Homo sapiens: one gene and its partners. The protein of the gene in region 2 purifies or fractionates together with the protein of the main gene of each other region. This does not show direct contact. Each region holds a gene or a part of one and is shown on either strand. Other genes may lie near its edges. The genes, in order: DNAJC2, MZT2A and VIPR2.

The links.
Region 1: the proteins of MZT2A (region 2) and DNAJC2 purify together in Homo sapiens (co-immunoprecipitation; one large-scale study listed by IntAct). This does not show direct contact.
Region 3: the proteins of MZT2A (region 2) and VIPR2 purify together in Homo sapiens (co-immunoprecipitation; one large-scale study listed by IntAct). This does not show direct contact.

What each region holds. Positions count from the first base shown.
Region 1 is NC_000007.14:103,338,139-103,341,786, forward strand, and holds part of DNAJC2 (dnaJ homolog subfamily C member 2), read right to left. Parts: coding exon 3,626-3,648; intron 1-3,625. UniProt on the Homo sapiens protein: Acts both as a chaperone in the cytosol and as a chromatin regulator in the nucleus.
Region 2 is NC_000002.12:131,486,282-131,489,398, reverse strand, and holds part of MZT2A (mitotic-spindle organizing protein 2A), read left to right. Parts: intron 1-3,117. UniProt on the Homo sapiens protein: Required for the recruitment and the assembly of the gamma-tubulin ring complex (gTuRC) at the centrosome.
Region 3 is NC_000007.14:159,141,996-159,146,170, reverse strand, and holds the start of VIPR2 (vasoactive intestinal polypeptide receptor 2 isoform 1 precursor), read left to right. Parts: upstream 1-1,303; 5' UTR 1,304-1,399; coding exon 1,400-1,450; intron 1,451-3,625; coding exon 3,626-3,725; intron 3,726-4,175. UniProt on the Homo sapiens protein: G protein-coupled receptor activated by the neuropeptides vasoactive intestinal peptide (VIP) and pituitary adenylate cyclase-activating polypeptide (ADCYAP1/PACAP).

The DNA of each region.
Region 1 (3,648 bases), on a different chromosome or scaffold from region 2:
GTGCACCTGTAGTTCCAGCTACTCAGGAGGCAGAAGTAGCAGGATTACTTGAGTCTAGTAAGTAGAGGCTGCAGTGAGCTGTGATCATGCCACTGCACTCCAGGATAGGCGACAGAGCAAGACCCTGTCTTTTTTTTTTTTTTTTTAATGATTTTAAGATTTTATTTTATTTTTTTGAGACGGAGTCTTGCTCTGTTGCCCAGGCTGGAGTGCAGTGGTGCCATCTTGGCTCACTGCAACCTCCGCCTCCCGGGTTCAAGCAATTCTCCTGCCTCAGCCTTCCAAGTTGCTGGGATTACAGGTGCACACCACCACGCCTGGCTAATTTGTGTATTTTTAGTAGAGACAGGGTTTCACCTTGTTGGTCAGGCTGGTCTCGAACTCCTGACCTCAGGTGATATACCTGCCTTGGCCTCCCAAAGGGCCAAGGGATTACAGGTGTGAGCCACTGCACCCGGCCAAGACCCTGTCTTTAAAAAAAAGAAGAGACAGGCTGGGCATGCCAGCTTACGCCTGTAATCCCAGTGCTTTGGGAGGCTGAGGTGGGTGGATCATGAGGTCAGGAGTTTGAGACCAGCCTGGCTAACATGGTGAAACCCTGTCTCTACTAAAAATACAAAAATTAGCCGGGCGTGGTGGCGCCCACCTGTAATCCCAGCTACTCGGGAGGCTGAGGCAAGATAATTGCTTGAACCTGGGAGGCGGAGGTTGCAGTGGGCCAAGACTGCGCCACTGCACTCCAGCCTGGGCAACAGAGTGAGACTCCGTCTCAAAATAAAATAAAATAAAAAATAAATTTAAAAAAGAGGTAAATGTGGACTATTATACAGCCTCCTTGATGATTTGTATGCACAAAGGCCTAAGAAAGGCTCTGAGAAGTCCTGTAATTAGATTTAAAAAATAAACAAACAGAAACCTGTAAAACCTAGCATTTTCCAAACTTACTTGACCAAAGACCCCTTTTTTCTCTTAGCACCTGTTGATAGCTTATGGCCATCCTATGGAACTTATGGCTACATGTTCTTGTTTACTTATTATGTCACTGGAATATAAGCTGTGTGTAAGCAGTAATACTGTCTTGTTCAGTACAGTATCCTTGACACCTAGAACAGTATCTGACATGGTGTTTGATCCATATTTGATGAATGAAAATAAACTGAACAAGTGAATGAACTCTGCTACCTTACTCTGATACAATCTACTTCTTTCTATACCAAAGACCTTCTCCCTCTTATAGATCTCAACACTCCCCAGTTCTGTCTTTTCCCGACTCTGCCTTCTCCTGAAGTTACTATCTTCTCTCATTTTCTTTACTACCCAGCTTTGAAAGAGTACTTTACACTTTGATCCTACTTCATCACTTCCTAATCACTCTTCATTCACTGTAATCTCTTGCCTTCCCGATCATTTTACTCAAACTGCTTTCAATGAGGACACCGAAACTTTTAGTTTGCCAAATCCAATGGTTTTTTTTTTTTTTGAGATGGAGTTTCACTCTTGTTGCCCAGGCTGGAGTGCAGTGGCACGATCTCAGCTTACCGCAATCTCCACCTCCCAGGTTCAAGCGATTCTCCTGTTTCAGCCTCCTGAGTAGCTGGGATTATAAGCATGTGCCACCATGCCCGGTCCAGTGTTTTTTAAAATAATTTTTCATGTTATGTGATTGACCTCTTTCTGAAGCAGTGACACAGGTGACTCTTCCCACGCCCCTTTTTTTGAGATAGAGTTTTGCTCTTGTTGCCCAGGCTGGAGTGCAATTGTATGATCTCGGCTCACAGCAACCTCCACCTCCTGAGTTGAAGTGATTCTCCTGCCTCAGCCTCCCAAGTAGCTGCGATTACAGGCATGTGCCACCACGCCTGGCTAATTTTGTATTTTTAGTAGAGATGGGGTTTCACCATGTTGGTCAGGCTGGTCTCGAACTCCTGACCTCGGGTGATCTGCCCGCCTCAGCCTCCCAAAGTGCTGGGATTACAGGCATGAGCCACTGCACCCTGCCTCTTTTTCCCTCTTGCTCCTCCCTTAGTTTCTGGAAGAATACGCTGCCTGATGTTTAGGAAGTATTTCTTCAAATAACAAAGTGTCTTTTTCTTTGTTTTCTTTCTACTTCTGTCACCCTTCTTAGTATCTTCTGCTGTTTTTCCTCCTCTTCCTACCCCTTAAATATCCATGCTCCCCAATGTTGTCTTTTTCTTTTAAAATGGATGAGGTGGTGGGAGAATCAGCTAACACTTTCTGAGTGCTTACTTTTCTAAATGTTTTATACATATGCTTTAGCTTATTTAGTCCTCTAAACAACCAATGACATAGGAACTCTTATTATCCATTATTTGTTTGGCATTTATCATGCAGCAAGTACTAACTTAAGTGCTTTATAAGCATCCTTTTATTAATCCTCAAGGTAAACCTTTGAGCTGTTAACAATCTCACTGTAGCAACAAGGGAAATGAGGTACACACATATCTGGGAACTTTCCCAAGGTCGAAGTGCACCAAATGGCAGAACCAGATTTGAATTCAGGCACTCCAATTCCACAGCATACGCATTTAACTATTATACAAGTACCTACTAAAGCATTATCTATTTGTTTATACTTTTGTCCCTTGCTGTTGTCATTCAATTCCTCACAGCAACCACCACTATGTGCCAATGACTTCAAAAAGTCTTTGGCTGTAACCTCTTTTTGGAGTCATAGACCAATTTCTAACCATCTACTAGACAGCTTCACCACTATGGTACCAAAACCTCAGTCTTCACATAGTCAAACTTGGACACAAACAGCACCTCCCACAAACATTCTTATCCTCATCCCAGCATTGGTTACTGACCACACACTCTAGCAGGTCACTCAAGCGCTAATGCTGGGAAGGACCTCTGAATACTTCTCTTTGTCTTGTGCCACACAGCCAGGGTCACCAAAGCCTGTTAATGCTACCTCCAAAAAAGGCAAATCTGACCCCTCTTCCTCAAAACCCAGCCACATAGTAAGTTCAAGGATTCAGTCACAGGTCTGCCTTAGTGCACTAGCCCTATAACAGTAAACTATTCACTTCCCCTCCAGTCCCTTGCCCCCTTTCAAGCAATTTCCTGTACTGCCAAGGGAATTACTTTTCTAAAATTAGCTAAGAAACTTTTGATGGTATCTTACTGTCCCAAAAATAAATTTTAATTCCTTCTTTAGCATGGTATAAAAAGGACACAACAGAGTTTGGTCTAGTGTCCTTTTAAAGACACTAGATTTCTCATCACCATACCGCATGTACCCTATACGACTTATCAATTCCTCAAGAGGCACTACATATTCTTTTACTCCTTTGTGTCTTTGTATATCTTACTCCTTCTGCCCAGAATACTTTTCTCACTTCTCTGCTTCACTAATTGCTGCCTGTCCTTTTAAGACCGGTGCAAACATTATCTTTTCTGTGAACTCTTCCTGGATTTCTCCAGCAGAGACAGTATCTCATGGCTAGTGCTAATGCTCTCAAGACTTAGTAATAAACAGATGCTAAATCATAGTTATCTTGCTGAATCATCTTAAAACATGTTTATTAATGGAAAACTCATAAGAAAATTGTCTATGTCTAACAAAGCATCTGACTGAACAAAATATTCAGATATTAAATACCTTCCAGTCTTTGGGATCAAGTG
Region 2 (3,117 bases):
AGCGAGACTCCATCTCAAAAAAAAAAAAAACTAGCCAGGTGGGCGTGGTGGTGGCGCCCATCTGTATTCCCAGCTACTTGGGAGGCTGAGGTGGGAGGATTGCCTGAGCCTGAGGGGGATGTTGCAGTGAGCCAAGAGCTTGTGACTGGACTCCAGCCTGGGCAACAGAGCAAGACCCTGTCTCAAAAAAAAAAAAAGAAAAGAAAGGAAAAGAAAAACCACTAGCAATGGAGTTGGGAGGAGGCTTCAGAGCCCAGAGAGCAGCAAGGGTTACACAGGGTGGAGCAGGAAGGGTCAGCAGAGCCCCACACGTGTGAGCTGGGGCAGTGGGAGGGCATGGGAGAGGCAGAGCGCTGTCCAGGTGCTGGTAGGCCCAGGGCAGGAGGAGGCAGGTGGGGGGGCACAGTCAAGATGTATGTGGGGGTTGTGGCACTGGAAATGCAGGCATAGAGGGGCCAGGAGGATTAGGGGGTGCCATGTGAGCGAATGGGGGCTCCAAGAGAATTTACCCGAGGACAGGAGTGGCCTGGAGTGCTGGGCCCCTCAGGGTCATTTGTTTCTCGAGGGCTGTGTCCTGGAAGCATAGCCCAGGTCCTGTAGGCTGGGTGGCAGAAAGCCACGACATGAGGGCACCGAGGCCCCATGGGGATAGAGTGGAACCTGAGGAGGAGGTGGAGGGGAATGGGGCAGACGTGTGCTGCTGAGTGAGAGGCAGAGGCCACAGATGGAATGCTGAGAGCTCTCTGAGGCCCACATATTACAGCTTCTGACCACACAGAGCTCCAGCTGCCCTGGTAATGGCAGAATCTGGGGTGGAGGATTCTGTCACCCCATATGGCAGGGGGGTTGTCGGAGTAATCCGGGGGGAGGGGCATGGAGGCCATAGGTTTCCCACAGGACTCGGGTGTTGAGTTCTCCAGGCTATGGGCCAGGCCCTCTCGAGCTTGCCTCTGTGAGCTGCAGCAGGCACCCTGGGTCCTCTGGATGCCTGTCCCCCAGCCATGCAGACGGCCTGTGGGAACAACCACCACCAGATTCACTCATACCCACAGGGAAGGGGAAATAGAAAACCCCAGAAGCACAGAGGGTCGATGCTTGTCTTGGTGAGAGTCTGGAGTCATTGAGGGAAAAATAAATTCAGTCAAGCGTTATATTTAAGTTTAGGGAAACTATACGTTTTAAAAGTTGTCCAGAGCATGCGTGTAAGATGACGTTTGGAGTGTGGAAGCCGTGAGTCTCACCTGAGCTGTGCTGCCTGATACAGGAACTTCGAGCCACACATGGCTGGCGTGGTCATTGCACTGCGTGTGGTATGCGCAGCAGATGCCAAAGGACCGGTACAAAAGGGAATGCAAAAAACCCACCACACCTTGGGAGGCCGAGGCTGCTGGATCTCTTGAGCTCAGCAGTTCAGGACTAGCCAGGGCAACACAGGGAGACCCAATCTCTACAAAACATACAAAAATTAGCAGGGCATGGTGGCACACATCTGTAGTTCCAACTACTTGGGAGGCTGAGGTTGGAGGATTGCTTGAGCCTGGGAGGTTGAGGTTGCAGTGAGCTGTGACTGCACCACTGCACTCCAGCCTGGGTGAGAGAGTGAGACCCTGTCTCAAAAATAAACAAAAAACCCCAAAGTGAATGAGGCTGGGCATTGGTTCACACCTGTAATCCCAACATTTTTGGAGGCTGAGGCAGGAGCATCACTTGAAGCTCGGAGTTTGAGACCAGCCTGGGCAACATAGCAAGACCCCACCCATTTCTACAAAGAAACAAGAAAAAGAACAAAGGTGAATGCAACATCTTATGAATAATTTATGTACTGACTACATATTGAAATAATACGTTGGATATTTTAGATTAATTAAAGTATTTGAGCTAATTGTGCATTTTCTTTTACTTTTTATTTATTTATTTATTTTTGAGACAGTCTTGCTCTGTCACCCAGGCTGGAGTGCAGTGGCACACTCATAGCTCACTGCAGCCTCAACCTCGTGGGCTCAGGCAATCCTCCCACCTCCTCTTGAGTAGCTGGGACTACAGGTGCACACTACCACACCTGGCTAATTTTTAAATTTTTTGTGGAGATGGAGGTCTCACTATGTTGTCCCAGCTGGTCTCTAGCTCCTGGCCTCAAAGGATCCTCCCACCTTGGCCTCCCAAAGCACTGGAATTACAGGCACGAGCCACTGACCCCTGCTGAGCCAGGCTGTTTTTAACATTCAGTGGTCATTGACTGTTTTTGGCGTTTAGGAGGGCCCTCCAGGGACCAGGTGTAGGGGCATCAGTCACCCTGCCCTCACACCCCAACCTGCAGCCACACTTGGTTCAATCCCACTGTCTAGCCCGTCTGACTCAGTAGCCCCTCCCGAGGGAGCAGGGCTAAGCAAAGCTGGTTTCCCCACTGCAAGGCACTGCAGGCCATTCTATTCTGGGCCTTCTCATCCTTCATAAAGTGAGGAGGCCTGAACAGGGCTCCCCACTAGCCCCGAGAGCACGCAATTCCTGAAGATTTCCAGGATTTTCTTAATATCAGTTATGGCTTACGGTTATGTTGGTTTCACATTTCCAGGGTTTGTCAACCCTGTCAGATTTAAAGATAAGCATTATTAGCCAGGTGTGGCCCCATGCTTGTAGTCCCAGCTACATCGAGGCTGAGGCAGGAAGATCCCTCGAGGCCATGGGTTCCGGGCAGCAATGAACTGTGATTGCATCACTGTGCTCTAGACCAGGTGACAGAGCAAGACTCAGTCTCTAAACCCCCCTCCCCCACCACTCTTAAAAAAAAAAAAAGCATTATTTGCTCTTTTCTGCTTCGCTGTCATCCTTGTTTCCAGAAGGGACTGGGTCACTACTGAGGGGAGGAGAGGAAGCTCAGATGGCGGCAAACTGAAGGGAAGCCGACTCTGAGTCAGGCCTAGGTGCACGGCCTGCCATGCTGCGTGCTGTGGGGAGCTGAGAGCGCATGGGCACCTAAGCACCCAGATTAGGCTGCGGCTACAGAAGATCTGACTGTCTGGCCTGGCCTGCAGAGGGACTGTGGCCTCAGAGGAGGATGCTGGCCCAGTGTGGGAGCTGCTGCAGGGTGGTGGGTCCCGTCTGCTCATGGAAGACAGA
Region 3 (4,175 bases), on a different chromosome or scaffold from region 2:
AGATAATAGATGACAGATTACAGATAGATGATCGATAGGAAGATGATAGATGATAGGTACATGACAGATCGATAGATGATACGTAGATGATGGATAGGTAGATGATAGATAATGTGGATGATAAACATCAGATGATAGAAAAATCGATATCTGTGAATACGGGGGGTGGGGGATCAGAGAGAAGCAAATGATAAGCCCAATGAGGTAAATGTTAATGACCGAATCCACAAAAAGGATAAAAAGGAGTTATTTGTAATATTCTTATTCTTCTAATTTTTGTGTAAGTTTGAAATTATTTCCAAATAAAAAATTAAAACAACACGAACTTAACTTGTATCTCTCATTCCAGTGCTTTCCACTTGCTGGGGAACGCCGAGCTCTCCTGGGTTGGTCACGCGGGCGCCTTGGGAGGCCGCGCAGTCCCGCGTGGGGCGCGGCGGGGCGGCCCCAGTGGCACCGCGTGAGTCCCCGCCCAGCGTTCCCCACCCGCCGCCGCGTTTGCGGGGAGAGAATGACCCCCGTTTTGCAAACGCAGGACACAAAACCCGCCACCCAGCTGAGGCTGGGACCCACCTATACCCCCGTCTGCGTTTTTCTCCAGCTTTCTGTTCGACCTGATGTCCTCTTTGAGGCTGCGGGGATCCCCACCAAAAAGCACTCTGATTTTCTCCATTTTCAGATGCCCCAACCTAGCCCCACTGGCTACAAAGACGGCGCGCCCACCCCGGACGGGTCTCTGGCCGCTTTCTTGGGCTTCCGCAGTTGTTTAGAAAGGCAGGTACAGGCGGCCGCAAAGGCATCCGCCCCTTCCGAGCGCACACCTGGCCCGGTCCTCCTCTCCCGGCCCCGCGCCGGCCGCTCTCCCCCAGTTCTCTCTACTCGGAGCCGGGCGCGCACTGAGCACCCCGCTTCCCAGCCCCTCCGCCCACAGATCGGGGAGGCGCGGCCGGGAGGGGGGCGTGGGCCAGGGAAGAGGGGAGGAGAACGGAGAGAGAGGCTGGGGGGGTCGAGGAGACCAGAGGGAGCGCGCGCGGCGGGGACAGAGAGCCCAGGGGCGAGGAGAGGGCGCGGGGCGCAGCGGAAGGGGAAGTGGGGGGCGGTGAGGAGGGGCGCGGAGCGGGGGTTCTCGGGGGAGGAGGGAGACGAGGATTGGGGCAGCGCGGGGCGGGGACAGGGGCGGGGGGCGGAGCGGCGGGGCGCGTGGGGGACGGGCGTGCATTGAGCGCGCTCCAGCTGCCGGGACGGAGGGGGCGGCCCCCGCGCTCGGGCGCTCGGCTACAGCTGCGGGGCCCGAGGTCTCCGCGCACTCGCTCCCGGCCCATGCTGGAGGCGGCGGAACCGCGGGGACCTAGGACGGAGGCGGCGGGCGCTGGGCGGCCCCCGGCACGCTGAGCTCGGGATGCGGACGCTGCTGCCTCCCGCGCTGCTGACCTGCTGGCTGCTCGCCCCCGTGAGTGCGCCCGCGACCCCCGCCCCACGGCGCCTCGGACCCGGTTCTCCCCTTCCGAGAAGAGCGCTCCTCCCGCCGGTCTTCGCCTTCCTCCCGGGTGCTGGAGCGCGGGCGGGGTCCGGGAGAGGGAGCGGGGTCGCCCGGGGTCCGGAGCTTCCTCCCGGAGAGCGTGAAGCGCTGAGCTCCGGTCCCGCCGGGTTGCGGGACTCGGGTTGGGAGGCTGCCTGCGCCCTTCCCCGCGCCCCACCGTCCGGGGTTTGCTGGAAACGGGATCGTTTCTTCCTGGACGCGTCAACGATGAGCTCGTTCGGGGCCGTCCCGGGAGCTGGGAGCTGCGGGCGCCTGCGCGGGCTGCGCGTTTCACGGGGAGATCGGGGTTGGCGTTGGCCGCAGATGCCTCTCGGTCCCTCCCTGTACTTACTGGTTAGTTTTAGTGTCGGGGGGACGTGGCGTCGGTTAAATAAAGTTTCCTTTTGGAAATAGTTGCTTTTTCCCAAGGGCACTGGAGGAACTAACTGCTCATAAGTTTGTTGATTAAGTGCCTTCGCACATGGAGTTCTGAATTATTCCCTCTGTGAACCTTAAAAAAAAAGGAAAGAAAAAAGAAAGAAAAAAACCCGAGCCTTGTTTCTTGCTTTCCTCTTGGAGACTGAAGCGGGTTTGCGGTGCGCGCGGTTTTCGTGCGCGTCGCAGCCGAGGCAGGTCTGGATCGATCCGCGGCCCCTCCGCAGCTGGGAGGCTGCGCTGCTGACCCGACAGTGTCATTGATTAACCGGCGACGCCCGGTCTGCAGCGGGGCTCGAGCCACACTCCCTGGCCTTGCGCGGAGGCGCAGCTCGGCTTTCCTCCCTCGAGGGTGGGCGCTTTGCGGAGCGGGTCCTTGGAAAGTAACGGGTTTTATCACGGTTAATGCTGCTTTCATTGCTAAAATGTCCTAAAAGAAGTCATTGCTGTGCATATTCCAGGAACGTCAGGTATTATTAATGTCTTTTACACTTTAACAAAGTTTTTCTTTTTACATCAATATAATTTCCTTAATTCTGAAATTTAAGCCACTTACTTGTCCTGCATGAAAACAGAGGACTTGGAGCCCAAAGTCAGTGCCTGGTGCTGGTTCAGTCACGAGCAAGAAGCAAGCTCGGGGCTCTTTTAAATGGGGCTGAAGGTGGCAGAAGTTCCAGCATTGTTTTCCCCTTAATTCTGTTAGGATATTGTGTTCCTGGTTGGAACTCTCATTGACCATTTCAATAGTAAGATAACTAAACATAGATGGCCATAGTACGCCCAACAGTATGATTCTCTTTAGTTACTACTTTAGTACAAGTAGAATTTTGGTCGGTGGTGGGGGAGGGGGAAGATCAAGACCAAAAGGATGGGTGGGGGGAGCCCTCCTTAAGCCCCCAAGGGCCGCTTGGCAGGCCTGTGCTGACTTCGCGGAGGGCGTGAAGAACAAGGTAGAAACGGTGCCTTCTGAGAGGAAGCATTGTGTAGTTCTGCCTTCTTCTCACATTAGTAGACTGTTAATTACTATCTTTGTGGCACCTTTCGCTCCCCTGATGGATCCTGACTGGAAATCGCCCCCTCTTCTCTGTGGGGCCACAATGGTGTGATTCCCCCACCTCTGCCTCCCTCCTCATCTTGCTGATTTCTTTGAATATCTCTTCCACCCCAAATTCTAGTCAAAACGATTGCAGTTTTATCTGTAGTTAGAGGGTTAAGCTTTGAACATGTACCAACACCTTTAAAAATAAAGCCCTTCTATCACGGCTCTTTCCCGGGTGGAGGCCGTCCTCGGAGGAAGCGGCACAGTCCACAGGCATCCGCTTAAACCAAACCAAAGGGTGTGAAACGGAGGAGCCGGGTATGGAGAGATGAATGGAGTAAAGAGCTCTGTTGCCTCCAAATTAGTACCGATGTATTCTGTTAGTAAGTTCATTTTCCTGCTCAGAAAAAAAATTCTATTAGATTTTGTGTTTGTTTTATAATACCTTTACAAAGTAAATAGTGAAGTTTTTAAAAAATGCCAGAAAAATCAAGGTGATTGGTTTTAAATGCATTTTGGTTTGGAAGCAGTTTAAAGCTGTGAGGTTTGGGGTTGTTTTTGTAGAATTTTTGCTTGCTTTTCTTCTTCTTGTGGAATTTTTAGTTATTAATATTTCTTTTAACCGTGAACAGGTGAACAGCATTCACCCAGAATGCCGATTTCATCTGGAAATACAGGAGGAAGAAACAAAATGTGCAGAGCTTCTGAGGTCTCAAACAGAAAAACACAAAGGTAAGGCAGAGGCTTGGTGAGTAAGAACTCCCGTGACATTCTCACCCGGGAATGCGCCTCACTCAGCTGTGGTTCAGGGTCACCACCTGCATCTTAAAAAAAAAAAAAGAAAAAGAAAGGCCACTTCCCATTGTTTGTTAATGAACTACTGGTAAAACTCAGAGAGAGTTGGATAGGTAGGGTCTTCACACACACCTTTAAAAAGATAACCTTAATCCTTAGCAGTAACAGTTTCCATGGTTTGAGATGATAGCAACAGTTACTAAAACAATTTCATGGGCTTTGTTATGCTTTGCAAAAGCAGCTTCAGTTTTCCAGGGGATAAGCATTTATCTGAATTCTTGCATTTTAAATTCTTAGCTATAGGACAGATGATTTTGATCTGGTTAAGGATGGTGGGTACTTGGCAGAAAGCAAACAGGAAAATGGGACTTTGGTTGTGCTGAAGAC